Linked DNA regions of Homo sapiens: all the other regions are linked to region 4. Evidence: fine-mapped expression QTL. A gene starts in region 4. Each other region holds a variant in brackets. All regions are shown on one strand. Distances are between the middles of the regions.

Region 1 (7,772 bases), 26 kb after region 4:
CAATGCTTACCAACTGCAACTTTTGATCACCTTTTGCTAGGTTTTCTGTTTACGTTCTGTGGAAAGTAGGTAAATGTCAGGTTGTAAGTGCTTCCTACAAATCTGTAAAGATAATTCCCAAGCTATGCTTTTCTTTTTAAAAACATTCTCAAAACAAAAATATGAACAAAAACATAGTGAAAGTCATAGCCCAAGGCATACCCATCTGTATCATTATAGACAACGTGTCCTGGAGAGACAGCACAATGGGCTCTATCTTCATCACACAACTCATCACATGCTTCCAGAAATATTCTTGGTGCTGCCACCTAGAGGAAGTATTTCGGAAGGTAAGTGTCTCTTTTCTAGTTACTCATTTATTTCTTCAGGAAGAATTTGTCATGATTCACTTTTTACTTCACAATGACAATTTTTGTCAGGGAAGTGAAAGTAGAGAGGTACCCAGTTTCTGTCATTCAGTTGTTTAAAATATGGCTAAGGAAAAGACAATTCCAATATATCCCAGCAGAAGATCAAAGTAAAATAAAATAATATCAACCATAAGCTTTATGTTATGGAGCGTAAGTTCTTAAGTTTTAGAGAAGGAAAAATATTTTGAAATAATTTTTATTTCTTAATTTATTAAATGAATAAAATCTGGGTGGTCTGCTAGGTCATGGATTTCCTCCTGGTGACAGAGGGGTAAATGAGGCCTACATGACGTAATCCTATCTAGGACTCACATTTTCGTGGGAGATATGGATACTGAAAATGTGGGTTAACAAACAAATATGTGCTTACAGATTGTGATAGGATCCATAAAGACATGTGAGAGGGAACAAAAAAGAAGTCATTCTTTCAATAAAAAAGTGCAGAAGGAAAGGTTTGCTACTTCTTGCCCAACTTGGGACATTCCTTATTCCCACTACTTCCTATGTTATTTTTCTCCATAGCTCGTACATCTACCCACTCAGCAAATATTAATAGTTTATTTATGTGTCTGGTTTTTTACTTGTATTTACTCACTAACATGCAAACTTCGTGATGGCAGGGATTTGCTCAGCAATTCAACAAACCTGGCACGTAGCAGATATTCAATTAATAATTATTGAATAAATACATGCATAAATACACAGATAAATGCACCCTCTTGTTTAAAGAGAAAATGGGATTGGTATTAACACAGAATAGTATAATTATTAATAAAGTAAAAATTGTAGAGAACAGTAAAACTCCTGCGGGAAAAGAAAGATACACCTCTGGCGTTTATAGAAGAAAGCCATCCAGAACCAGCACAGTCACTCATTCCTGTAATCCCAGCACTCTGGGAGTCCGAAGGAGGGTGGAGTGGCTTGAACCCAGGAATTTGAGGCCAACCTGGGCAACATGGCAAAACCCATCTCTACAAAAAATACAAAAATTAGCCGGGCATATTGACTGGAACCTGTAATCCGAGCTACCTGAGAGCTGAGATGGGAGAATCGCTTGAGCTCAGGAAGCGGAGGTTGCAATGAGCTGAGATTTCACCACTACCCTCTAGCCTGGATGACAGAGTAAGACCCTGTCTTAAAAAAAGAAAAAGAAAGAAAAGTAGTGAAATAAGAAGAAGGAGGAGGAGAAGGAGGAGGAAATGCAGCATAAATTGAGACAGAGCTCCTGTGAATAGAGATCTGGGAAGTTAAATCTTTTAAATCTTCTTGGATAAGTGGGAGTTAGACATTGTACTTTCAAGGATGTTCATAGAAAAAGGAACTAAAAATTCTGGATTTAGGATAAGTAGACTTACCAATTAGTTGATGCAAAAAAACTACAAGATCAGCTTGGTGGTGGAGATATGAAAGTTGTTCAGTGTTTGGGTCTTAAAGATAAGATACTGGGGCTGGGCACGGTGGCTCACGCCTGTAATCCCAGCACTTTGGGAGGCAGAGGCAGGAGGATCATGAGGTCAGGAGTTTGAGACCAGCCTGGACAACATAGTGAAACCACGTCTCTACTAAAAATACAAAAAACCAATTAGCTAGGCGTGGTGGTGGGCACCTGTAACCTCAGCTACTTGGGAGGCTGAGGCAGGAGAATTGCTTGAACTCTGGAGGCGGAGGTTGCAGTGAGCCGAGGTTGCACCATTGCACTCCAGCCTAGGCAACAGTGCAAGACTCCATCTTAAAAAAAAAAAAAAAAAAGAAAGATAAGATACTGGGATTAAATTCTCCTTCAATTGAGGAATCAGCCTTGGTGAGTGTTGAAAGTACAGAGTCCTTCCTTATCTGGTTTTCATGAATAGTTTTCAAGGGATAACTTATTGTCAGATCTGTAGGTCAGAAATGGAAAATAGAGGAAATGAATGTTGAAAGACCTTGGATTAGACATGAGGTGTTTATTTTGATGTAAAGCATACAGTCTGACATGGAGTGGCAATTCTAAGAGGTAGGGTACAATGTTGAGGAGTTAGAATGCCCATGGGCTTGGTTCTATGAAACCTGCAAGCTCACTTCATTCCAGGTGTTGTCTGGTACATGGTGAAAGATGCTTTCTGAGACTTGAAAAGAGTCGTATCTCATCTACAGCCTATTTTCTTTTTCAGGTACAGCAATCATTTGAAACTCCAAGGGCCAAAGCTCAAATGCCCACCATAGAACGACTGTCCATGACAAGATATTTCTACCTCTTTCCTGGCAATTGAAAATGGTTAAGTATTGAGAGTTGTTGGTGGTATGTGAAATAAATAAGAGAGTGATATTGGTGGTTAAGTTCAATGACAAATGACAGCTGAGTACTTGGATGGTCAAATTGGTGTTTTTGTTGATATAGTCTGGTGATTATCTGCTACTTCTTTCCGACTTACATGTATTTGGATTCCTCCAACTCTACAATTAATCAGGCAATCAATCAATCAATCAAGGAGGTAAGGAAAACC[G/T]CAGCAGAATGTGATGATGAAAAACCAAGGATAGTAATTATTAAAATAGAAACATGCTCATGCTTCCATTACTATTTATATTCATTTATCTCTCATAGTCTTTCTCTTTTATTCCCCTTTCTTACACACACACACACACACACACACACAGAGAGAGAGAGAGAGAGAGAGAGACACTAAGTAGCCAAACATTGCATCAAACCCTAAACAAAACAGAGTAAACAAAGGAGCTAACTCTGGAGAAAGCAGCATTTTGATCCTCTGAGTGAGGATGTCACAGCAAATACCACATTACTGACATCCAGATACCATTACCAGATGGTACAGAATACATCCTACACTGTAGAGTTTGTGTTGATCCAGGCTCTGGTTCTCAGACTGTTCTCACAATGCAGATCACCAATCACTCAGGGTTGGCTTTTGAATCTTCAATCACAGTCCAGAAGTTCCTTCAAGCTCCCATGTAACTTTTGTTATTATTTTGACCAAAATATTATAGAATGGGTACATTGAGTCTGGACTAAATGATGACTTTCTTCACTCATAATAGCTTTATTTAACACTAGACTATAAGACTATTATCAATCTCCCTCTAAGATACATACTTAAAATTATATTTTATAGTGAAATGTATAAAGTTGTTCTCAATACTTCCAACATTTACCACATAATTTTTACTCTTGGTTTCTGACACTTCAGTCACAATATTGCATCATTTCAGCATAACAGCTTTCAGTGCCTAATCCATCCAGTGGGGCTGCATTTGGACATTGAATTGTTTGTTGACTAATATTTGCCAACACTAACTGTGCACCAGGTTTTGTTCTAGATGCTTGGAATATGCCAATTAACAACGTAAATAGATTTCTTACACTCTGAAAGCTTATATTCTAGTGAGTAGAAACAGACTCTGAAGACATAAAGTGGTAAATATATCACAGGCCGGAGAGCAAAAAAAGATAAAAGGAAAAATAAAGGAAGACAAAGGAAAACACAGAATGATGGATGCTGTACTCCTATAGATATTTCACTCAAAAGCTTTTCTTGAAATAATGAAATCAGAACAAAGAATGGACAGAGTTGGGGAGTGAATAATGTGGTTCTTATGCAGGAAAAGTGTTCCAGCACAGAATACAGCCAGTGCAAATGCCCTGGGATAGCAATGCACTAAACATGTTTAAAGAACTGCAATGAGACAGTGTGACCAAAAGAGAACGTGAGTGGAGAAAATGGCAGAGACAAATTAGGAGAAGCAGTGAGAAGCCAGATCGCGTGGTTCTATGTTATCACATGGTAAACCTTTAAAAATTATTATCTGAGCGAGACAGGAAGCCTTTCTAGTGCTTTAGAAAAAAGAAGTAATATGCTTTAAATTAGGTTTTACAAAGATCACATTTTGGTGAATAGACTAAGATGTCACAGATGGAAGTCAAGGGAAGTGGCAAGAGCACATGGAAGAGGATGCAAGAAGAATCATGATGAGGGATGGGATGAAGGCAGCAAGGGGTAACCATCTTGACCTTCTGTTTTTTCTCTCCCCTGCAGGAAGCCACAAGCAGCCCAGCCCTCCTTAATCAACTTCAAGGAGCACCTTCATTAGTACAGCTTGCATATTTAACATTTTGTATTTCAATAAAAGTGAAGACAAACGAACTGTGTCTTTTTCTAATAGAGAATATAATCTCAATGAAAATGGTGGGTGAGTGGAAATGAAGTGGAGGAAGCTAACTGGATTTTCGAGCTTTATGGCTCATGAAATATCTATACTTGGCTGATGAAGAAAACTGACTGATTTATCCCCAACAATAGGATGAAAGATGTTGCCGAAAACTATAGTGAGATACTGCCTCATACCCATTTGAATGACTCCCATCAAAAAAAGCCCCAAAAAACAGAAAATAACAAGGGTTTGAAGGGATGTAGAATAATTGGAATCCTGTGCTCTATTGGTGAGAATTTCAAATGGTACAGCCACCTTGGAAAACAGTATGGTATTGCCTCATAAAATTAGAAGTAGACTTACCATATGCTCCAGAAACTCCACCTATGGGTACATAACTAAAGTAATTGAAAGCAGGGTCTCAAAGATATATTTATACACCCACATTTATAGCAGCATTGTTCACAATATCTAAAATGTGGAACTATCTGATAACTGATAAATGGATAAGCAAAATGTGGTGTATACACATAATGGAATTTTATTCAGCCTTTAACGAGAAGGAAGTTCTGACATTTGTTACAATATGGATGAACCTTGACATTATGCTATGTGAAATAAGGCAGCAATAGAAAAACACATACTGCATGATTTCACTTACATGAGGTACCTAGGGTATAAAATTCATAGAGACAGAATGTAGAATGGTGATGGCCAGGGACTGTGGGGAGGAGGAAATGGGGAGTTATTAGTTAATGATATAGAATTTGAGCTTTGCCAGACAAAGAGGAATTCTGAAGGTAAATGGGGGTGACACTTATATGACTTTATGAATGGATTTAGTATCAAACACTACATTTAAAAATGTTAAGATGGTCAATTTTGTGGTATGTATTTTTACCACAATAAGACATTGGGGACAAAAGGGATAACTGGAGGTGAGAAAAGATGGAGTAAATTGCACCCGGGAAACTCTGATCAACTTACACAGAAGAGAATTAAGCTACTGTGCAAAACTGATGAAAGAAGAAATGAGAGTAAAGTATATTACTTATTATTTCAAAATGAATCAAGGAAATAATCGGAAATCTCACCACCATCAAATATTATGTAGAACAAGAGAGAGATCTGGCAGTGTGAATGAGCTATATTTCATTTTTCATATAAGACAGTTAACCACTTTTCTACTGTGATAAATCTTAGCAAAACTAGGGGTCCAAGCATATACGTCTTTTTCTCCCCCATATGGTTCATCAAACTGAGTTAGGCAACTTTACTTTCACACACCTGTGATGCCTCAGGAGCCACCTTGACATACACATGTCAAGAAAATTATTAATTCTATATCTGATGATGTCTTGATTCCACTTTCACCATACAAAGCAGAGACCAAAGGTGTCACTCACAGATACTCATCTATTCTGCCTTAGTTGTTAAATAACTGTCTAGTCATTCATGTGAAGACCCTCTTGTTTCCCAAGTGATGTGCATGGTTTCAGGTGACTTACATCTTTAACAGGACTTATTATCAATCAGTCAAGCATGTGGAAAAAAAATTCAGTAAAGAGTATCCAACACATTGGGGTAAAGTTCTCCAGAGAAGGTGAGGCTTTTTCAATGTCCATCTTTCTTTAGGTTCACTATTTGGAAGTTACCTTAACACAGAAGACTCTCAAGCAGTGTATTCTCCCTTCCTAGGTAACAGTGCTTCTAAAAAAATAGCATTGTTTGAATCCCATCTTCCTTGGTATTAATTACATAGGATAAACCCAGGGTGGGAGGGCTATGGGTAATTCTCATAGATTATTAAATCTATGAGAGTATATATAATAGAGTAACCTATGAGTGTATATATAATATATATACACTGAATTAGTAATCATTGAATTCCTCTATAGTACAAAATATTTTCCTTAAACTGTGAGCAATAATAGAGAATTCAGTGGAAAATGATCTATGCTGGAGTACATTAGAATTTGACTCCACATAGAAAAGGTCTGCAATGTTGGGATCATTCAGCAGTCCAATTTGCCCAGACATCAAGTATTTATAGAATAGTGGAAGCAGAGGGCAGAGAAGCAGAAAAACAAGCAAGGCACATTTGGGTCCTACCTTAAAGTGGGTTTTACCTAGAAGTATGAAGTACATAAAACAGAATATATCTGAATAATTGTAAATGTAAGCTTTGGTGTAAGATCCTTGCTTTTATAGACTGACACAGCCACTTAGTACTTGGTAAATTAATTTCATTTATTTAGCTTCTCTGGGCTTTCTTTGAGTTCCTTACTAATAGATGTGAATATAAATATCATTGTTCTAAGGATGTAATGAGTTAATATAGGCAAAATATTTAGCATAGTCCAGAATAAAGAAGGTGTTAAACAACTGCTATCATTAAAGATATTTCTACTTTGTAACTTAACTCAGTTAACTTCCTTATCAAGGTTTAAATAAAAGTCATTTGAATCTTTTCATTCACCATGTTTGGCAGTTTCCTGGGACTTGCATTCTCTTGGTCACCTATGGCCTGAAGGTCTTGGCTCTGCTCATATAGTTAAATTACATATTGTCTATAATGAGATGCCCTCCCTCAGGAGACAGACTGGTTCCACATTGTGCTGACCATATCCTAAGGTAGAATTAACTTTTTCCATGATCAAAAACGATGATACCACACAAAAGACCCAAACATTTCTAGCTTCAGTGTAATTAGTAGACTTTAATATTAGATGGAATTGTTCTTTAAAATCATTTGATCCCAGCCTTCTGCATGACTTTTGCCTCTGTCTTTGCAGCCCTTTGTCGGTCCACTGTTTTCTCAACATCAGTCTTGCTGGTTTCTGTCTCTTTCTTTTCTTTCACTACTTTTTACTCCTCCTTTCCAGATGACTATCAGAAACTCCAATTTAGTTATCTATGACTCCAATATTACACCTAGCTCCACATTCCACTGTGTAAATTCCAATCATATCATGGTGCTCTCCTGAAGAAAAATAACCATCTACTTCCTTAATTTCACAAAATATTTGCAGAGACACCTGTCTCCATCTCATCTCTTACCTACTTTATTTAACTGGAACAAGACTTAGTTAAAAACCTTCCTTTAATTGTGATAGACATGGTTCTATATAGAATTTTAATTTATTATTCAATATATTTTATTACCATTACCATTGACTAAAAGATTGGATTAAAGAAAGTGTCCATGGTTATATACAG
Region 2 (7,844 bases), 260 kb before region 4:
AACCCGAAAGTCCTGCCTAAGGTCCAGAGATAGGAGAGGCAATTTCTGATTAGGTTGAAGTAACAAAATTTCATTTAAGAACTAAAGCGAGCCTCCATAGAAAGTTCTTTGAGTCCTGAATAAACTTGAGCCCTAGACGTTGCTAGGCACCATAAAGGGCCCAGAGGACATATATTGGGCCAGTTTAAATACTTTAACAGGTTTAATTCTCTTTGAGGAGAAATGGAGGCACAAGCGAGCAACAGTGCGAGTTCACCCTCTTCTTCAAGAGAGTTACAATACTGTTGAGGTCATAGTATTGTTGAGGGCCTTGGGCTCATATTGGATGATATCCAGATGCCCTTGGCATCCCATTTGTGTGAATTAGAACCAGCCAAACACCTAAGGGGCTCCATTTTACAGTTTGACACTTATTCAAAGATTCTATTTTATCCTAAACAGCATAACGTTTAAGATACTAATTAAACTTAATTCTCCCAGGTATTTTTCCACTTCTTTTACTTCTCTCTCTCTCTCCCTTTATAGAAGAAATAATTTGTATATAATAAAAAAACCATTGGCTACCTTAGAGATTCATATACAGGGCTATTTTATATGGATAGAAAAATATGGTAAGTCTTTAAATAAATAGCTTAAATTGGTGGTTATAATTTGCTTCAATTGTTTACAGTAATTGTATAAGAAAATAACTTGATTATTTTAAGAACTGTTTCAATAAAATCACACTTCATGTTTATCTACTGCTGCCCTCCATAGGAAAGGAGATCAGTGATGCCCTTTTTCCCTGCTCCCCTCCTTGTTTCATGCACAAGGAAGGCTCTGGAGCAAAGGGCTTTACAGCACTGTCTGGAGTTCTCCCATCTATTGATTGAGGTCAGTGGTACTGATGTGGTCATACTTCCTGAATGTAGACTCTCCCTTACCAGGAGGAACATACATAGAGCTGTACTGAAAAACACATGCTGAGAGTGGTGGAGGTCAAAATTAAGGTGAGGCCTCAGGAATGAATGGCCTTTCAACCCACTTTTGATGGCTCAAACCATGTACAACTTAGGCAAAAGGAGTTCTGCCAATGGTTTAGCCCAGCTCATTAAACACTTTCTTTGTGAACAGAGCTAATAGGTTGACAGGATGGCCCACAGCCCCCAGGAGCTGTAGCTGGCCTCCAGGCCCTTACTCACATTCATTCTCTCTCTCTTCCACCACAGATTGTGCCCCATGGATGGATTTAAATGTATCTTTGGAATGAGTGATTAGAAGAAGACAGAAACTGGGTAATTCCGAGTTTTCTGTCAAATACTATATTCCTAATATCATCCTATCTTCAGCATTTTACTTAGTTCATGTGAGTTTATTCCAGATAGAGTCTACTCTGGTCCACAAATTAAACAGTGTTTGTTTTTTTCTCAAAGGAAACTTTTGAAGGTTATCTATCAGCCTCTGTACTGGAGAGTTAGCCTCTTGAATCAAGTGAGCTAAAGTACACAAAATTGACCCTTCACTGCTTTTAGAACTGTCAGTTTTGCAGAACTCCTCACTTACGAGTCATTCTAAGTGACATTTGCTTCACCTTTCTTTGAAGCTCTTATCACATAGACGCTGGTGCTATCAGCTGAGCTATTATGGGGATAACACATTGAAGCTGCAATAATTTCTAGTTTCCATCTTCAAAAACAAAATACATTTGGTCAAGTATGTGTTAGCCTTTTTCTTTCACATACAGATTCTCAGTTTAAAACTCCTTTGTTTCATCTTAGTAGTCTCCCTTTACTCTCTACACATCCCCAGGCCCAATAGTTCACTACTCCTATAAATGGAGAGAGATTGTACCTTTTTTATGATATATTAAAAACACAAACTGTGTATTTGTGTGGATGTACAGTCAGAGTCTCTCAGTCTGAGAGAAATTCAAGTGTGATAGGCTTTGGAACTTTAGGAGGCTCTGCTGGCTTGAAGTATTTTGGGCTATTATAGACAGAAGCCTATTTTCCAAGGGCTACAATTAGTAGCCAATTACAATATCTGTAACAGTGAAAGATTTCACAATGCAATGCAATGCAAAGTAAAGTTGGACAAGTAACAACATTAAAAAGACATTGATGTGATCCATTGCAAACTTTGGACATGTCATTCTGTTTAGGTTCTCTTTTTCTGCTTAGTTAGACTTTGCATCCATTTCCCTCATTCTTAACTACTGAGCTTTTTTGCTCCATTCCTGCCTCCTGAATCTTCCCAGACTCTCCCTCCTGGCTACTTTTCAATTCAACAAACCCCACATTATACATAACACATTACATTCTGCTGAGTACTGTAAAGAACATTAATAAATTACAAAGCTGTTTTTGAAATATGCATAGTCTTGTAAGGGAGACAAGATTTAACCAATGAACCAATTCAAAAAGTGCCAAATGTAATAGAATCAAGAGGCAACGCTCATAGACTATCAATAAAATGGTCAATAAAGAATCAAGTTCATGTTATTGTTGGCTGACAATTTGCAAAATGCTTCTCAAAGTTACCGAACCCAGCAATATAAAGAGGGGAGAGAGCCTGACTGAGCCTATGACATTTCACAGACTTCATCTCCTGGTTCCTAATCAATATTATATTAAAGAAAAAACAAATCAGAATGATGGAACAGCCTAGCAAAAATTCAGACATGATAGTGTGTCAGAGTGTGCCAAGGAGGTGCATTTGAAGGATCTGGTTCTTGTGGGAAATGGCAGAAGATAAAGTCATATTGCCTTTTTAAAAAGCATTTTCTTTAGACCACTAGTCTAGAAACGTGGTATAGCATACCCCTCCTAGATATTTGCTTGCTCATTAGCATATTAAAATATCTGGAGCCTTAAATATATTCAGATGTTAACTTTCCTTCAACTCATCATTTTACAAATTTCCTTGACCACAAGCCATTAATGACCCTTATTATATAAACAATTTCTTATAGGCTATGCTTTAGGAAATGTGGGATGATGTATATCAAGTAGAATATAAGAAGTCTAGAATGGCAGCATAGAGTTGATTTTTTTAAATAGGGAAAGTTATTGAGTAAGAAACTTAGGTGATCCAGTTTACACATTAAGGACACCCTTCTGTGTGATGAACTAGAGAAAATAAAAATCTTGAAATCAAAGACCACTAAGGAGATAATTGCAAGATGTTTGTTTGTTTTTATAAATTTGAATAGGTTGATGGAATTTAAAATAAAAAAACAAAGGAACAATTCTTTGGGCAAGAGAGATGTGGGCAAAATAAATGGTGTCAACATCAAAATAATGAAAGAAGTAACAAAACAAGATCACTGAAAAGAAAGAAGCTGTTGGGGGGAGGGGGGCATGACAGGAGCTAAGCCAGTGGGAATACTATCTTGATATAGGCTGTAAAAATAAAGTTGGGATAAACGTGTTTAGACACAGATGGAGAACACTCAGCCCCAAGAATGCAGTGACGTCAAATAATGAGCCAGGTTTTTGTTTTTGTTTGTGTCTTTCTGTATGGCTCTTAGCCATCAGTCTTATTATTTAACAGGCATACATGTTATGATCCCCTAAGGAGAGAAGGTGATTACAATAACCTTGTATATTTAAGAAAAATTGAAAATGTGGGGTTTGATGTTTTTTATTTTGTTTTCACTATTTTATGGTATCAGAAATACCTGAGGTCCATGTTTCAAGTACCAATTAATGGACAGGGACCCAATAATCTGTCATTTTTTAAGCACGCTAAAGTGGAGAACAACTGCAGGATCTGCAAAGCTAACATACCTGAAAATTGCTACTCCTTGCAGCAGCTGTGAGAATGTGCCTGGCTGATGTCCCAGAGCAGGAGGTATCAGCCAGCAGCAATAGCCCACAACTGCTG[C/T]ATTCCAAAATTCAATTTGTCCTGCCTTGAATTGAAGACCGTGCCTAGGCTGCTTCTGGCCAGTACCTACTGCTGCAAGAATACTAAGGCAGACTCACTCTGGGGAAAGCAGGGGCCCTTTGAGTGCCAACCATTGGCTTTGTCAAACCTTTCTTGGAAGATCTGGCAGGCTGGGAAGATTTTGAAAACACCTGCCCAGGCTTTCTCTCTTTCTCCTTCAGTCATGGAGATGCAGTTCTTTTTGCACCCTGGTCTGATAGCTCACCCAGTCTTCCTGAATTCCTGACAATTTTGTCATCCAGACAATTTTCCTAATATGGTCCATGCATTTTTAATTCCTTCTTGTTGTCTGCTGCTTGGAAGACATACTAACACCCTTCTTTGCAGTTTGAATAAACTATGATGAACATAGTTTCTCTATTTGCTAATGACACTTGTTGTATATTCTCATAATACAATTAGATTGCATAGGTTCATTGATTCAGAATCTACACAATAATTTTTTAATAATAATATCACTTTATTGAGTGTTTATGATGGATCAGGTAGTGGGTAAGCCCTTTACATCTATTATTATAATTAGTTCTGTGCTGGTGAACAGCCTTTAAAAACAAAAAAAAAAATGTATTTTAGCCAATTTATGTGGTTGTAAACACTCCCACCACAGCCAATTTCAAGCTATTAACAGGATTAACAACAAGCTGGTGAAATGTTTGATAAGTTAGTAGCTGGCTCCTGAAGGTTTGTAGGAGCCTACCTCAACACACAAGACACACTGTAGTCCTTTTTATCAGTTTTGAGGTAGGGTTTAATCCTAGTTTTACTGTTGAAGACCCACAAAAAATATTACAGAAGTTAGGCAATTTGTCCAAATCACAGGCTTGAGATTTGCATCCAAATCTGAAGGACTATTAATTGAACTACTTCCTAGGTGTCTCAAAGACTCTCTGAATCCCAAATCATAGCTAATTTAAGCCAAATAAAAGGAGAGAGAAGGGCTTAGTGAAAAAAAACTCAGATATGTCTCATAGAGCTCAAGATCAGGCAGCTACACTTCAGAGACTTATGAAGCCACCTGGATTCTCCTCATTGCTTCCTGGCTCCTTCTGTTCCACTCAATTTATCTTTATGAGACTACCATCATGACCTGTTTCTGTGTTTCATGTGGCAGGTAGAAAGAGGCTCCTGAGCTTATGAGCTCATGTTTTACGTATAAAATAACTCAGAGAAAATTTCTTTCTTTCTACTCTTAAGTTTAGAAGTCCTAGGAAGGTATTCTTACTGGCCCAGTTTAGGTCAGATTTCCACCACGGTTCTATCAACTGCATTTTCCCTGTGGGTATGGTGAGAATTAAAAGAGGAAAGGTTGTAACCTGAACAGGTGCCCCAAATGGAGTCCACAGCATTGTTTTACATGACAAAAAATATTGTTACATTTGTAATATAGTAATGTGTGTATGTATGTATATGTATATATATATATACATATATTTAAATAGTACGTTATCTCTTTTTCAGTACAAGTACTTAGGCACAATAATCTCTCTGAGTTACTCATTTTTAATTTTTCACTCTTATATTACCCCTAGGTTTTATGAGTCTTATACATTTTTATTTCGTTAGTATATTATTTTTCTTAAGAGATGGGTTCTTACTCTCTTGTCCAGGCTGGAGGGCAGTGGTGTGATCATAGCTCACTGTGACCTTGAATTCCTGGGCTCAAGCGATCCTCCCACCTCAACCTCCCAAGTCCTAGTATTATGGTTGTGTGCCATCATGCCAGGCTAAATTTTGAGTCTTGATAAAGTCAAAATCACAATGATTTCTTTACTCCTGACTAAGCCAAGTATCGAGGGTAGATGGGCTCAGACTCTTTGAGTGGCTACCATAGATTTCAAATCCCCTTAAACATGCATATATGTTACACATGCATTTACTTAAAAGCTTATCTTTATACCAGCCGTCATTCGCATGTTACAAACCAATAACTTGCTACGTATCAAACAAAAACCCATTTTTCTTCCTTATTTACTGCCCAGGAATGGGAAAGATAGATAACTGATCTCCTCAGCCAGCCACATATATTTAATACTAAGTAAAATAAATGGTGTTTATTACACTGAGAATGGGGGAGGTTAATGTATATTTTAAAAGAGCATAATACAACTTTATAACAAAGATATGATATGATTTATCCACAGGAAGGATACAAATAAACAGAAACAAGCTGAACAGGTTCTTAAGCTTTAATATAATGGACAGCACCATTTAATAAAATATGTCAGGATTTTTAAGAATCAGAGAAAGTCGTTGTGGAGTTCAAATGCAAAACACAATCTTGTAAAAAGTCTTCTTTTTCAGAATATTTTTGGCTAAATATAAGAGACTAGCTCTCCCAGATATTTAAATAAATAATAAAGCTACAATAATAAAAGCAGCAGGCTATCAACCAGTAATAGGTTAATACCCAATGAAACAGAATAGATAATACAGAAATAGAATCATATAGAGATTGAGCATATGATAAAACTGGCACTTAACCTCTATGGGGAAAAGACAGATTATTCAATAAATCATTTCGTGACAATTAGCCATTTCAGAGGAAAAATAATACTGAATCTCTATTTTTGTTCAAAGATAAAAATAGACTCCAGATGAAAAAATACTGGCAAAACAAGAGGCCAAAAACTACTAGACAAAAACAAGAGTAATTTACATTTTTGATAGTTTTTAAAGGGGCAAAATAATTTTTTAAAACAGGAAACAAAGTCCAGAAGCTTAGAAACATGGCTTAAATATATTTTAAAAAACTCCCTTTTACAAAAAAAAAAATCTACAATAAAATTAAAAGATAAGAAAAGAGGTTAAGATTGTTTCTTTTGATTCCTAAATTGCAAGTATTCCCAAGGTGATGCTGTGGCAAGTCCACATGGCTTGAGCACATGAGTTGGATACACTGGGTCCTCTATTCTCCAATTTTCACAGTGGTCCACCATGAGCAAGGCTCTTCTGTTTGTGGAAGACCTGATATCAGGGAGCATCTCAGACACTTGAGCTGATAACTAGTAAACTGCAACTTCTCACCTGGAATGGGGACTGTCTTACATTGTCTAATTTTTGCAGGGATTTCCAATAGCCCTTGACCTCAGGGCTCCCTCTCTTAAAATATTTTGCTGCTGTTGTAGTAAATTTTTTACTTTAGGTGAATTTCTTTTCTGGAACTCTCTCATAACCCTCCCTATCCTCCCATCAACATGTGCTTTAGTTGTTAGTGGTTTTTTTTTTTTTTATTATTTCAAAATCTTGGTTATTCATGGAAGTGAACTATGAAATAATTCTGAAATGAGCCTATACTTTATAATTATCATACCCAATAAGCAGTATTCATACTAATAAACAATATATTCACAGGTATTTCAAACTGAAATGGAAATTATAATAACTGTGAGCAGATCAGGAAGCCAGGGACTCCAGTGGGGGAGTTGACAATGTACTGCTAAATCCTCTCTGCCATACAAAAGACCAGTTTGAGCAATCTTTCTTACCTTCATTCTCTCTTCCATAAATGAATATAATAGTAGTGCCTTCAAATTTAATTTGTTTTTATGAGCACTAAATAAGATAATATATGTTTGACAACCTACTACAGTGTTTAGCATCTAATTTCTGAAAAATTACTAGGCTTTTTTCCATTAGGTACATTTTTCAAGCAAAATTACCCAATCAATCACTAAAAATATATTAGTGTAAAGTATTAACATCTATGAAAGGGTGCTATGGTGAGATCCATTGTATAAAAAAATACTTTACAAATTCCTTGCCACCACACAGCTGGGTGAAAGTCTTCTGCTAAACTCAAAGGATATTTTTAATTTAATCATCAACATTTTTACCAAATAGATTACCTTTTCTTAGAAGGATCTGAAAACAATGGCACTTCTAAATTGATAAAGTCTCAATATATTACACCCCAGCATAAT
Region 3 (7,844 bases), 220 kb before region 4:
AATATTATTATCTAAATCCATAGTCTACATTCTGATTTTTCCAATTTTCTTAATAATGTTGTTAATATCTGTTTTTTTTTTCCTGAATTCAGGATCACACATTTAGATATTGATATGGGTTGGCTGTTTCCCCACCCAAATCTCATCTTGAATTGTAAAGCCCATAATTCTCATGGGTTGTGGAAGGGACCCACTGGGAGATAATTGAATCATGAGGTGGTTTCTCCCATACTGTTCTTGTGGTAATGAATAAGTCTCACGAGATTTGATGATTTTATAAGGGGTTTCTCCTTTCACTTAGCTCTCATTCTGTCTTGTCTGACGCCATGTAAGACATGCCTTTTGCTTTCCACCATGATTGTGAGGCCGCCCTAGCCATGTGGCACTGTGAGTCCATTAAACCTTTTTTGCTTTATAAATTACCAGATCCTGGGCATGCCTTTATCAGCAACGTGAAAACAGACTAGTGCAGATATAATGTTTCATTGATCTCCTTTAATCTAGTCTAGTTCCTCAGCTTTTTTGTCTTCGTTGGCCTTGATGTATTTGAAGTGTACAGGCGAGCTTATTTGTTAAACTTTTTTCAGTTTGAGTCTGTTCCATGTTTCCTTGTTATTAGAATTAGGCTGTGCACTTTCAGCAGGAATAACATTGAAGTGATATTATGTCCTGTTCAGAGCATCATATCAGCAAGCATATGATATTGGTCTATTACAACATTGGTGAGGTTAATATCGATCATGATATCAAATGATCTGTTTTCTACTGTAAAGTTTACTATTTTTCATTATGGAACTAAGTAGTTTGTGGAGAGATATTTTAAACTGTGTAAATATTCTTTTCCTTATCAGATTTTCATCCAATAGTTTTAACATCCATTTCTGTTTTTCTAACTCCATCATTCTAGTGAGGATTACTTAGGATTCTACTTAAGAAATAGCTTTGTCTTCAGCATTTATTTCTTTATTCTTTTATTTTTTATATTGGTATGTGCTTTTATGATTCTTTGTTTGTTAAATTCATTACTATCACAGTTTTTCTCAATGTTCAAATTATCCTAGAATTGAACAATAGTAGACCCTTCAAAATGACTTGTTTATTTTCCATGATTCTCTGTGATTTTTGGAGCATTTTCTTACTTTTTTTTTCTTTTGAATGTATATGATTTTTTTTGCTCAGGTGACAGAAAATGAATAATAATGGGAAATATCAACATAAGTCTTGAAAATTACTTTATTCTACTGGGTCTTTCTAATTGACCTCCTCTGGAAATAGTTATTTTTGTAGTTCTCTTGATATTCTGCTTCATGACACTGATAGGCAAGCTGTTCAGCATCATTCTGTCATACCTGGACTCCCATCCCCACACTCTCGGTACTTATTCTCTTTTCTGGATTTCTGCTACACCATCAGTTCCATCTTTTAATTACAGTACAATCTCTGGGGCCCACAGAAGAACATCTCTTATGCCAGTGGTATGATTCAAATTTATTTTGTTCTCACACTGGGAACCATGGATTGCGCTCTACTGGTGGTGATGTCCAGGACTGTGATGCAGCTGGACACAGACACTTGCCTTATACTGTTGTTATGGCTGTGGCTTTTTGGGTAAGTAGCTTTACCAACTCAGCATTTGATTCCTTTTTTACCTTCTGGGTAACCCTGTGTGGACATCACTATTATGCTTACATCTTTATATTTACATCATTGTTAGTATAAAGATGGTTCATTAACAGAAAGAAACAGTCTGTGTTCTCACTGAATCATGCAGCTTTATTAACATTATCTTTTCCATTATAAAATGACTGCTTCCAGGAGATTGAAAAGAACATGTTAAGAAAAGCACAGCATTGGAGAATCTGAAAGCATGTGATCTTGTTCAATTAAACCAAGTATCAAAAACATGCATTTTTATGAGACTATTTTAGGAAATTCATCATTTAGAATGAGGTTAAATTATGAGGGGCAAAACAAAAATAAAAAATAATATTAACTTAAGTAAAATAAAAATTTATTTATCTCCCTCATAAAAAGAATTTCAAAGATAGGTGGTCTGAATGATAAGCCACTTGAGGTGCCTTTACTGGTTCCTTTTAACTTATCTTGGCCTTTGATTTCCCCAAAATAGATCAAGATTCTGCTTGAGCTCCATCCTTCACACTCATTCAGTATAAAGAAGGTCAACTGCTTCTTTTTTTTTCTTTTTTTTTTTTTTTTTGAGATAGAGTCTCGCTCTGTCACCCAGGCTGGAGTGCAGCGGAACAATCTCAGCTCACCGCCACCTCCGCTTCCCGGGTTTAAGTGATTCTCTGCCTCAGCCTCCCTAGTAGCTGGGGCTATAGGCACGCACCACCATGCCCAGCTAATTTTTTTTTTTAATTTTTAGTGGAGATGGGGTTTCACTGTGTTGGCCAGGATGGTCTCGATCTCTTGACCTCGTGATCCACCCGCCTCAGCCTCTCACAGTGCTGGGATTACAGGTGTGAGCCACTGCGTCTGGCCAAGAAGGTCAAACCCTTCTTTTGAAAGATTTGTCCCTGTACTTCTATGAGGAACAAATTTTATATATTTTTAAATTTTGTATATCTATATATAACATATAAATTTAAATATAAAATATTCAATACATTTTAAAATATTAAATTTATACATTTTAAAGTATTAAAATATTATATTTTAATATATGGTATATATTACATCTGTATTTTATGTATATAATATATAATATGTATATTTTAAAATATTAAAAAAGATAAATTTATATTTTATATTATATATATACACACACACACACACACACACACACAGAGTATAAGGCATTGGCTCACACTATTATGAAGGCTGGGAAGTACGAAGAACTGCAGCTCAAAATACCTGAGAACCAGGACAGCCAAAGGTATATGTGTCAGACTGAATCTTAAGGCAAGAGAGTACTGATAACCCAGTTCAAAGACCATGAGACAGAGAGAGTGAATTCTTTGTTGCCTAGAATTTTGCTCTATCCAGACCTTTA[T/C]TTAACAGATGGGATGAGCTTTGCTCACATTGGTGGAGGACAGGAGCAGGAGCAATCTACTTTACTCAGTCTACAGATTCAGATGTTAATCTCAGCCATCCAGAAATATCCTCACAGACACGCCCAGAATCATGTTTAATCGAATATCTGCTCACTTCATGACCCCATCAAATGGACACATAAGAGAAACTGTCACAAGGCCCTTCTCTTTAAAGTCTATTGATCCAAACGTAGTGACAAACAATGATGGTAAATTTACCATATATCCTGGAAAGCCATATGCCTACATAAAAATCAGAACTTCTATTGATACAGAAAAATTAGAGAACACATATTGGTGTACGTTTAGCAATATCTGCCTCTGAAGAGAACTGACAGTGAAGAGTGAAAGAGAAAGGAGTTTCCAGGAAATAAAGTGGATTAAGCTTCCTGAAATATGGGAAATAATATATCATTTATAAGAATTATTATTTTCAGCATTTGTTGATATTATGGTTTGGTGAAAATTATTACGTAGACATTTTCTTTTCATTCCAGTATATTTTTTTGAAAATTTCTGTTGTACTTTGAGATATTTAATATATATGCTTTACCTTTTTTAATGTGTAAAAAACTTTAGATGTCTCATGTCATTAATTGAATTTTGAATATTCCAATGTAATTTCCCATAGACTATACATTTAAACTGCATATTTTAAATACTGAGTTTTCACTGCTACTTAGTGGTTTTAAGTATTTTTAGATAATATCTTTTGGTTTCTTAGCTTGAAGAATGAGGATATGGCTCTTTTTCACATCCCTGCACTACCTTATACACTCACACATATGCACACAAGAAGAACTGATAAATTACTTTATGTATTTGACTACAAAGAAACCAGTGTGTGTGTGTACATGTGTGTGTTTGAAATATCTCTCCTGAAATCTTTACTCCTCTTGTTCCAGTCTAAACTGGATTTTTCTCTAGTCTCCTCTTTACACCCTTTTGTGTTAAATGCCCTGATTCCTGGGTCCTTCCTAAATCTATTCCTTCGTTTTTTATGAAATATATACTTCAACAATGTTCTATAGATACTCTGTAACACAGAAAAAGGTGCACAGAGAAAGTTAATTTAAGCCCTTGCATGTTTGAAAATATTTTTATCCTTGCATTTAGTTTGCAGTGAGATTCATAGACTTCCAGGAGAGAAAAGACTTTCCCTCAGAAACTGAATCCATTGTTCAGTTCTTTTTTAGTTTCCAGTGTTGCTTGTTAGAAGTAAGAAGTCATTTTTATTCCTTTGTATAAGCCCTTTGTATGTAACCCATTTTTTTCCTTTCCAGATGCTCTTAGGACTTTTCCCAAATGTCCTGAAATTGTATAGTTATGAAGAGTAGTCATGAGTATTGATGAATCTGAGTCACATTGTGGATACTCAGTGGACCCTTTTTTTTTGTGGAAAATCTTATCCTTCTATTCTGGAAAAATTTCTTAAGTGATGCTTTCATAATATCCTCCCCATCATTGTCTCTCTCAGTGGAACTCATTAGTTGGCCTGTTAGACTGAGCTTTTGTTGTTGTTGTTGTTGTTAACCTTTTAGAATTCTATTATTTTAAAATTATTTTTTTCACCTGCAAAATTTTCTATTCATTGCTTTTCAACATTTCAATCATTTGTTTTTATTTTTGTCAAAAGATTTCACATTTCTAAAAATTTGTATTCTCTGAATACTCTCATATCATAAATGTAATATAGTATTTTTAGATTTGAAGATGAGAATTATAATTTTATATGAGTGTTTTTTATTCCCCATATGATCTCTGATGTTTTTATTTGTTCTTTTTTCTATCTTTGGATTTTCATGTGCATTTTTTTGTGTTTTGTTTTTAAGGAGCTTCTCAAATACCTGGTGATCCTTGGCTGTCCAATCAAAATAAGTAGGTCCTAACATTCTAATAGGAAGATTTATGTATGTGGTAATGGCTTGTTTAATCATGAATTTGTATTTAGGTAGGGTACAAGGTTTTTGTTGTTTTTTTTTTACCTTTTATTTTAGGTTTAGGGGTACATGGGCAGGATTGTTGTGTAGGTAAACTTCACGTTGCGGGGAATTTGTAGTTCTCTATTCTACAGGGCAGTTTCCTCAGAAAGAAATCCTCCAGTCATCTGCCAACAACAGAAAAGCATAGAGGCCAGAGTAGTGGGAGGCAGGCAGCCATGGGGGCAAGAGGACCTCCATTCAGTACACCCTCGATCGCCTGGTTCCATGTGTCCAGGGGGGTGCCTCATCTTTGACCTTAGCTGGTCAAGATGTCTCCAATTCACAGTCTCTGTAATTCAACATCTTCAGAGAATAATCCTTTTTTTTTTTTTTTTTTCCTGCAGAGCTCAAGAAAGGGCAATTGACTAGTTTGTTGGACTTGGGGAGAACATCAGGGCAGCTACCTGCTCCTAAAGACACTTTCAACAAATCTTTTGTTTTCTGTCCCACTTCACACTCTGGCTTTCAGAGATAATTTGCGACTCCAATTTTTGACACTTTCCATGGTTCTGTACCATAAATCATGATTTTTTTAAATTGTCATTACCCAAGCTGTCATGTTCTGGATTTTTCATGTATACACTCAGTTACTATTCATCTGTATGCTTTCTATATTCCAAAAATAACATTTTATGTACTAAAATCTGTTTTCTTTGATTTTTTGCTTATATATATTCAAAAATAACTTAATGTCACTTTAGTTGGGTTTTCAGAGAGACCAGAAATGCCTGTTGCCTATGCACCATTTATAAAATTGAAAATCTTCACTTAGTTTCCAGTAATATATTTTATATTTGTTGTATTCTATTAAAAGTGCTCTTGTGAAGTCACCAATAACCACTGTTGTGCCAGAAACAATGTAATCCTTCCAGTGACATTGATCTTGATGACCACAAATCACTTAAAAAATGTCACTCCCTGACTTCTCTGTCTTTAAGAACCTCCCATTCTCTGACCCTTTCTTAGTCTCAAATTGTTCTCAATCTCCTTGTACTCTAGTGTTTTTTTGCCTTCCTGCCAGTCTTGGTGTCCACTGAGATTCTGATTTTATTCGATCCTAATCTTATCCTACATAATGAGTTATTCTATTTCTCTGATTATTTTCACTACCAATTGCATCATGGTGACCCACAATCTGAATCTCTATCCCTGACTGAATTCCTGATCTTCAGACACATATGCCCCTCTAATGTGCAGATATTTCAATCCTGCAAACAGCTTAATTTGGATGTCCTAAAATAATCTCAAAGTAAAGCTAATAACAAACTCATCATCACCTACAGCATGCATGTTTTTTTCCCGTGGGTGTCGCAATTTAGTAGATGACTGTATTCAGTAATTCAAGTATTTCAGAAAAGGAAATTACTCAAGAGTTTCCCCTTTCTCTCTTATTTATCATGTCCACTAGATTATTTACAACTTAATTTTTGATTTACTTCAGATTTTACTTCTCACTTGAGCCTATTACTTCAGCTCAACCTTTTAGGTTTATCTGATATTATCTCTTTCTCTTTGAAACCACCTCAATTAATGCTTTCAGAATGAACTATCTAAGATTTAAATTTGGGAATTTAGTTGTTCTAGCATAAATGCTTCAGTGCTAACTGCTACTTTTACTTTAAAGACCACACTGCTTAGAGTAGGATGCAAGAGCCATCATTACTAGCCATTATCTCCCCAAATACTCTCATCTCCCCAAATTCTTCCAGCTTAACCCTAGTGGATAAAAACACACTTGTAGATTTCTGTAAACTTGATACTGTCTTATATTTCAGTGGGTGTATTTTTATACCTTATTTTTTTAAACCTTTCAGATTTTTTTTCAACTTTAAATTCAGGGGTACATGCGCACGTTTGTTACCTGTGTGTATTGCATGATTCTGAGGTTTGGGTTGAGAATGATTCCATCAATGAAGTTTGGTATTATATTGGCTGTGGGTTTGTCATAGATGACTCTTATTTGAGATATGATCCTTTCATGCTGAATTTCTTGAGTGTTTTTATCATGAAGGGATGTTGGATTTCATCGAAAGCTTCCCATGTCTATTGAGATAGTCATATCATTTTTGCTTTTAATTCTGTTGATGTGGTGGATTATATTTATTGATTTGTATATTTTGAACCAACTTACGTCCCAGAAATGAAGCCGACTGGATCATGGTGAATTAACTTTTTGATGTGCTATTGGATTCAGCTTGTTAGGATTTTATTGAGGGTTTTTACACCTATATTTATTACAGATATTGGCCTGTAATTTTCCTTTTTCACTGTGTCTTTGCCAGCTTTTGTTATCAGTGTGATGCTGGCTGGCTTCACAGAATAAATTAGGAAAAAATTTGTCTTCCTTGATTTTTTGCAATAATTTCAGTAGAATTGATACCAGCTTTTCTTTGTAATCTGGTAGAATTTCGCTGTGACAGCTGGGCAGGGTGGCTCATGCCTGTAATCCCAGCACTTTGGGAGGTTTAGGTCAGCCTATCACTTGAGGCCCAGTGTTTGAGACCAGCCCGGTCAACATGGCAAAACCCTATCTCTAATAAAAGTATAAAAGTGATTCAGGTGTGGTGGTACATGCCTGAAATCCCAGCTACTCGGGAGGCTGAGGCAGGAGAATCTCTTGGACCTGGGTTGCAGTGAGCTGAGATTGCTGCCACTGCACTCTAGCCAGGGCGACAGAGCAAGACTCTGTCTCGAAATAAATAAATAAATAAATAAAATTTGGCTGTGAATTCATTTGGTTTGGAGCTTTTGTTTTTTGGCTGGCAGTTTTTATTTTATTAGTGATTTAATTTCAGAACTTGATACTGGT
Region 4 (7,371 bases):
GGCTTATTTCATTCCTTATGACAACCGTAAAAGACAGACATCCCTAGAGCAGCCATTTTAGAGACCTCCCCCTAGGAACGCATTCTGTTCCTTGCTGAGAAAAAGAATTCAGCAATATTTCTCCTATTTGCTTTTGAAAGAAGAGAAATACGGCTCTGTTCCGCCCAGCTCTCAGGCAGCCAGACCTAATGGTTATCTCCCTTGTTCCCTGAACGTCGCTCTTATCTTGTTCTTTTTTCAAGGTGCCCAGATTTCATATTGTTTAAACAATTTGTGCAGTTAACGCAATTATCACAGGGTCCTAAGGCGACATACACCCTCAGCTTACAAAGATGATGGGATGAAGAGATTAAAGTAAAGACAGGCATAGGAAATCACAAGAATATTGATTGGGGAAGTGATAAGTGTCCATGAAATCTCCACAATTTATGTTCAGAGATTGCAGTAAAGACAGGCATAAGAAATTATAAAAGTATTAATTTGGGGAACTAATAAGTGTCCATGAAATCTTCACAATTTATGTTCTTCTGCCATGGCTTTAGCCGGTCCCTCTGTTCAGGGTCCCTGACTTCCCACAACACCAGAGTTTATGTGAAATGGAAGTAAATCATCTTTGTGCACATTTACATTAAGAAGAAAGAGCCCAAAGGTTGAACCACAAACTATAGAGTTCCTAGGTCCTATTATCTTTTCTGCCTGCTTTAAATCTACCATTACTTTTCTTCTGAGATAAAAACCACTCTTTGTCTTTGTTTCTGTTAGACCGCTTTTCATTTCTGTATTGAGTATCTTAAGTACTGTAGAAAAGATGTCACTTCTTCCTTTAAGGCTGTCTTGTAATATATATAAGGACTGGAATTGTGTTTCTAAAGAAAAGCATTCAAGTATGACAATATACTACCTGTGTTTTCACCATTAAAAGTGCTGTTTAGTAGTTTAAACTTAAACTATTTAATGTCATTTAATAAAGTGACCAAAATGTGTTCTTTATTGTATTTTCACAGCTTTGAAAAAATAAATAATTCAACCATATATCCCTAATATTTCACAGCCTCCTTAAGAATGTATAACAGTCAACAAACATAAAAGAAATAGCAGACAGAGTATGAGATGCTGAAGAAACACTACAGTGCACTGAATGCAAAATTATGCACTTGTGTTGTGCAGGGGAAATAGTTTGGGGTTAAATCAGTCACTCAGTGATGTGAAGATTTTGAAGAACTGGAAGAACTACAAATTCAGTTGCAATCATGAGCCTTTTCTAATCCCAAACTCATTAAAAGTGAAGGCGAATTTCTGACCTCTTGCAATCCTTCAATGTTAAGCTTCATACTGCCATTTTATTTTAATATTTTTTTAAGTTCTGGAATACATGTGCAGGATGCGCAGTTTGTTACATAGGTAAACGTGTGCCATGGTGGTTTGCTGCACAGATCAACCCATCACCTAGTTATTAAGCCAAGCATGCATTATCTCTTTTCCTTAATGCTCTCTCGCATCCCCCATCCTCTTATCTGGCCTCCATGTGTGTTGTTCCCTTCCCTGAGTCCATGTGTTCTTATTGTTCAGCTCCCACTTATAAGTGAGAACATGCAGTGTTTGGTTTTCTGTTCCTGCATTAGTCTGCTGCGGATAACATCTTCCAGCTTCATTCTTGTCCTTGCAAAGGACATGATCTCATTCATTTTTATGGCTGCATTGTATTCCATGGTGTATATGTGTCACATTTTCTCTATCCAGCCTACCATTGATGGGCATTTTGATTGATTTCATGTCTTTGCTATTGTGAATAGTGCTGCAATGAACATATGCATGTATGTAATGTATCTTTATAATAGAATGATTTATATTCTTCTGGGTGTATACCCAGTAATGGTATTTCTTGGTCAAATGGTATTTCTGTTCTAAATGACTCACCACACACTCTTCCACAATCATTGACCTAATTTACATTCTCACCAACAGTGTCTCTTGAATACAGCACACTGATGAGTCCTGTCTTTTTGTCCAGCTTGCCATTGTGTGTCTTTTAATTGGGGAATTTGGCCCATTTATTTTAAGGTTAATATTGGTATGTGTGAATTTGATTCTGTCATCATGATGTTGCCTGGTTAATTTTGCAGACTTGTTAATGTAGTTGCTTCATAGTGTCATGGGCCTGTGTATTTTAGTGTGTTTTTATAGTGGCTGCTAACAGATTTTCCTTTCCATGACTACTGTTTCCTACAGGATGTCTTTCAAGGCAAGCCTGGTGGTGACAAAATCCCTCAGCATTTGCTTGTCTGAAAAGGATTTTATTTCTCCTTCACTTATGAAGCTTAGTTTGGCCAGACATTAAATTCTGGGTTGGAAATTATTTTCTTTATTAATGTTGAATATTGGTCTCCAGTCTTTTCTGGCTTGTAGGATTTCTGCTGAGAATTCCACTGCTAGTCTGATGGGCTTCCCTCTGTAGGTGACCTGGCCTCTCTCTCTGGCTGCCCTTAACATTTTTTCCTTTCATTTCAACCTTGGAGAATCTGACGATTATGTGTCTTGGGATTGATCTTCTTGTGGAGTATCTTACTGGGACTGTCTGAATTTCCTGAATTTGAATGTTGACCTGTCTTGCTAGGTTGGGGATGTTCTCCTGGATGATATCCTGAAGTGTGTTTTTTGACTTGGCTCCATTCTCCACATCTCTTTCAGGTACTTCAATCAGTCATAGGTTTGGTCTTTTTACATAGTCCCATAGTTCTGGAAGGTATTGTTCATTGCTTTTTATTTTTTTCTGTAATCTTTTCTACCTGCCTTATTTTAGCAAGATAGTCTTCAAGCTCTGATACTCTTTCTTCTGCCTGGTTGATTTGGCTATTGATACTTGTGTTTGAATCATGAAGCTCTCACGCTGTGTTTCTCAGCTCCATCATGTCATTTGTATTCCTCTCTAAACTGGTTATTCTAATTAACAGTTCCTGTAATCTTTTATCACGGTTCTTAGCTTCTTTGCCTTGGGTTAGAATATAATCCTTTAGCTCAGCAAAGTTTGTCATTACACACTTTCTGATACCTACTTCTGTCAGTTCATCCATCTCAGCTTCAGCCCTGTTTTGTGCCCTTGCTGGAGAAGTGTTGAAATCATTTGAGGAGAAAAGGCATTCCAGCTTTTGGAATTTTCAGCGGTTTTGCGTTGGTTTTTCGTCATCTTTGTGGATTTATCTACCTTTAATCTTTAAAGCTGTTGACCTTTGGATGGGATTTTTGTAGGGTCTTTTTTGTTGATGCTGTGTTATTGTTGTTTTATTTTTTTTTGTTTTTCTTCCAACATTCAGGCCCTTCCTCTGCAGGTCTGCTGCAGTGTGCTGAGGATCTACTCCAGACACTGTTCACCTATGTATCACCAATGGAGGCTGCAGAACAGCAAAGAGTGCTGCCTCCTCCTTCCTCCGGAAGCTTCTTCCCAGAGGATCACTGACCTGACGCCTGTTGGAACTCTCCTGTATGAGGTGTCTGGCAACCCCTGTTGAATGGTCTAACCCAGTCAGGAGGCCCAGGATCAGGAACTCACTTAAGGAAAGAGTCTGGCTATCCCTTAGCAGAGATGGTGCACTGGGCTGGGGGAATCCCCCTTGTCTGGATCGCTGATACTCTTCAGAGCCAGCAGGCAGGAAAGATTAAGTTGGCTGAACCTGAGACCGCAGCTGCCCCTCTCCGCAGGTGCTCTGTACCAGGGAAATGAGAGCTCTGTCTGTAAACTCTAGGTGGAGTTGCTGAAATTCCTGCAAGCATTTCTTGCCGGGAGAGGAGGGATGGATCCCGGTCCCACCTAAAGAAGCAGTCTGGCCATGATCTGCCACAGCGGCTGTGCTGCACTGTGAAGACTGCTGCCCAGTCCAATCTGCCCAGCCTCCCTAGCACTGGTAGGGAAAAACCGCTGACTAGAGCTGCAGTAATGGCAGTCGCCCCTCCCCTGGGGAACTCGGTCATCTCTGGCGTACTCCAGGCTGCTATGCTGGCTAGTGGGGATTCTAATCCAGCGGATCTAAGCTTGCAGGCTTCTGTGAGAATGGACCTGCTGCAAGGCCATTTTGCTCCCTGGCTTCAGCCCCCTTTCCATGGGAGTGGACGGGACTCCTGCCTCACTAGAGTTCCGGGAGCTGCTGGACTATGTAAAAACTCCTGCAGCTCAGTGCCTGCCCAAAAAGCTGGAAATATGAACTATTGGGTTAATTCTTATCAGGAAATGAAAAAGAGTTGTTAGATTAAACTTCTTCAGTCATTGTCGTTCTTTGTAATCAGAGAAAGAAAAACTGAGAGATCAGGAAGAGAAGAGACAGATGGATAGAAGAAGTTTGGGTGGCCACAGGAAACAAGAAAAGAAACAAGCTGAGGTGTCAACCCACAGGATAATATTTTGTCATTTTCATTTTTTTCCCCCAAGTCAGAAACTAAATTCCAGTAATTGGATGCCAATTTGCTGATGACAAGGCACTTCCTGATAATGAGTCTGGAATTCTGAGCAGCAGTTTCACAATCTGTAATTACACGTTTCCGCCCTTTGCAATAAGGAAATACATAGTTTACTTTCATTTTTGACTCTGAGGCTCTTTCCAACGCTGTAAAAAAGGACAGAGGCTGTTCCCTATGGCAGGTGAGTCCTTTTCTGACTAGGAGTTTGGGAGTAGGAACTTAGAAAACACTTGATTTATTGCTCTGAAATAAACACAAGAAAGGAAGTGAGCCGATAGCACACATGTTGAATTCCTTTTCTTACTGATTGTGTGTAGTTTGAATCATGGGACCTGGTGTTAGAGATATTGACGGAGGTCATATGTTTTCCAGATGTCTTTGAGCCAGAAAGAAGTTAATTCCTTTCTTTCAGCTTCTGGTAATCAAAGGGAGGGTAAAGAAAGCCAGAGGAAGTTATTTGTGTGAGACAATTCTAGAAGTTTCGAAATGCACTCTGAAATCTTTCTTTTGATTCCAAATTAATTGCCCAGATCACAAACCTTTTTCGCAGAATCAGATCTGAGAGCCTCTGAATTGTTATCTTCTTCGACATCTCTTATTGTGAATTACATTCTTGGTCTGTTTAAAGTGATTCAATTTTTTCCTCTTTCTCGTTGGTCCTGATACTGACTACTTTAATATAATATTTCATGGGTTAATATCACAGTTGTTTTGTTTTGCCGTTGTTATTGTTTTTAACTGGTATCCTTCCCTCCAGGACTTAACTCTCCAATCCATTCTGCACACAACTTTTAGGTCACCTGTCTTATACACAGAAGCTGAAAAAGCCTAAGGGATAGAGTTACTTAGGCAGCTAGTATTCCAGCAGGTCATAACGCTTCTTTGGCTTCATTCTCCTCACAGGAAAAGGAAGAAATTGGACTAGATCAGTGAATTCTAAACCTTATAACATATCGCAGCAATCTGTAGTCATATAAAAAAAGTCAGATGACTACCCCCTTCCTCACCGCGAATAGCTCAATCTTAAATACCCTGCAGGCATTTATTACCTTTGAAGATCGTCACATAATTCTTATGAAACTGACTTGACATAGGTTTGTTCTATTAGGAAAGTTGACCAGTTAGTTAACACTCTCTGCTTATCTGCTAGTGATCTATTAATGTAATTAACTTTGCTCAGGGACATACAGTGGCTCCCTATTGCCTTTTCTCTTTTTTACTATCTGAACTTTCAGACAATTTTTTCTACCTTTTGAAACATGTGTATCCAGTTTTTCCATTAATCTTTGTAAAGCATGATTTCAACTTCATAAAAAAATACTGTATTTACTTCACTCATATTACCTTGTTGTTGTTTCTTTACTCCTTTGATTCTCCCTATAGAACAATTCTCTCCGGGGTTTATGTCTAACTTCACAACATTTAACTTAAGCTCTGGAATCAAGGGATCATTAGATAAAGATAGGGTAAATTGAAAGCCACTAGTCAAAAACAAGTCGTGGTTTGATAATTATAAACAACCAAATGTAGACAGCTATTATTACCTTAAACTCTTGAGGAATTGTATCCTGTAATGTGTTTAAGCATTACATCACTTTGCCTGGAACCAAAACTGTGGTCCTGATAAGTTTTTTCCTCTAATTGATTCCTGCCATTTTTATTATCACTGCAGCTTTCATTCAGTGATTATTATAATAACAAAAAATAATCTATAGTAACCATTTCTTTAAAAAATACTTACCATATGATAGCTAATTCATGCACTCTCTCTGATTTAATATTTAACATCAATCAATACAGTTGTGCTATTATTTCCATATTGTAGTTGAAGGGGATACTTAGAGAATGCCTCCAAAATATGCTTTAGGTCAAAAGTCTGTTGAGAGGAGTGGTCTCAGGTTGGCATGACTCTCAAACTCTGCCATTAATCTAACTTTCTGCAAACATCTTCAAATACTTGCCCTGTCTCTGATCACTGCCACTTCAGTCCTGGCCTCACATTTCTATTCCTTCTAAAGCCCAGCTCTCCCAGTTTTCTGGTTACACGAGACACCCTCAAGCCTTTGTGCTTTTTTCCTTACTGCTCTCTGCCAAAAGACCAGCTCCTAGTTTTCCAGGGGACAAATTCCTACCAGTCCTTCAGGTCTCAGTGCCAAGCCCTCCCTTCTCTGGACAGCTGTACCTGAGACACACTTTGCTTATGCTTTTCTTGAGCTTCTGCTAATTATTTACATTCTTATAATATTTTTCATTTTACTTATTTGCATATGTATTTTTCCACTTGACTGCAAACTTCAAAGTGTACAGACATGCTGCCAAAGTGGTACCCCCAATAACAGCAGAGTAAGTTTCAAGAATTTATGCTCATTAAATATACCTGAATGGATAGGGGAATGAACATGCCTTCCTTCTGTTGAAATATCCAACATGCAACTATCATCTATTAAATGAAATCAAACTTACCTGGTTTGCTATTAAGAATTTGTAATCACCAGGTGGGTTCACCTTGCCCACTGCTTAGACAGAGCCAATTTATCAAGACAGGGGAATTGCAATGGCGTAAGAGTAATTCACGCAGATCCGGCTGTTCTGGAGAGGGTAGTGTTATTATTACTTAAATCAGTCTCCCCGAGCATTCAGAAATAAGAACGTTTAAAGATAATTTGGCAGCTAGGGGCTTGGGAAGTAGGAAGTGCTGATTACTCAGGTGGGAGATGGAATCATAGGGTGTCAAAGTGAGGTTTTCTTGCTGTGTTCTCTTCCTGGGTGTGATGGCAGAACTGGTTGGGTTAGATTACTGGTTTGGGTGGTGTCAGCTGATCCATTGAGTGCAGCGTCTGAAAAATATCTTAAGTGCTGATATTAGATTTTATAAAGTGATATTATCCCTGGGAGCACAATGGGGACATTCCAATTCTAGGA

Alleles and levels. Alleles are on the strand shown, and positions count from the first base shown. SD is a standard deviation of normalised expression in the study named. Not every link is listed here.
In carriers of allele T in region 1, the expression in skeletal muscle of the gene that starts at base 4,575 in region 4 tends to be lower than with G alone (small effect, 0.26 SD a copy in GTEx).

What was found. PIP is the estimated chance that this variant, and not a neighbour inherited with it, causes the effect. A credible set is the group of variants that fine-mapping cannot tell apart.
Region 1: its variant is the best candidate, but not a certain one, in a credible set for the expression of CASP4 in skeletal muscle (GTEx, PIP 0.73).
Region 2: its variant is the best candidate, but not a certain one, in a credible set for the expression of CASP4 in whole blood (TOPMed, PIP 0.52).
Region 3: its variant is the best candidate, but not a certain one, in a credible set for the expression of CASP4 in whole blood (INTERVAL, PIP 0.75).

What each region holds. Positions count from the first base shown.
Region 1 is chr11:104,939,640-104,947,411 of GRCh38, reverse strand. CASP4 (caspase 4) reads left to right here. Exons shown (of 9, transcript NM_001225.4): 7 at 220-329; 8 at 2,561-2,664; 9 at 4,439-4,546. The coding sequence ends at 2,659. Among named protein-coding and RNA genes, the nearest start is that of CASP4, 25 kb to the left of the region's middle. The variant G/T (reference allele first, on the strand shown) is at 2,894.
Region 2 is chr11:105,220,651-105,228,494 of GRCh38, reverse strand. The region is part of intron 4 of LOC105369468 (a long non-coding RNA gene); the gene reads left to right. Among named protein-coding and RNA genes, the nearest start is that of CARD18, 85 kb to the right of the region's middle. The variant C/T (reference allele first, on the strand shown) is at 3,865.
Region 3 is chr11:105,188,292-105,196,135 of GRCh38, reverse strand. The region is part of intron 4 of LOC105369468 (a long non-coding RNA gene); the gene reads left to right. It also overlaps the pseudogene OR2AL1P. Among named protein-coding and RNA genes, the nearest start is that of CARD18, 52 kb to the right of the region's middle. The variant T/C (reference allele first, on the strand shown) is at 3,014.
Region 4 is chr11:104,965,778-104,973,148 of GRCh38, reverse strand. It overlaps CASP4 (caspase 4), which reads left to right and starts at 4,575. Exons shown (of 9, transcript NM_001225.4): 1 at 4,575-4,630. The coding sequence starts at 4,624. LOC124902813 (a long non-coding RNA gene) reads right to left here. Exons shown (of 2, transcript XR_007062986.1): 1 at 4,989-7,371; 2 at 4,569-4,864. RefSeq lists an enhancer at 3,576-4,775.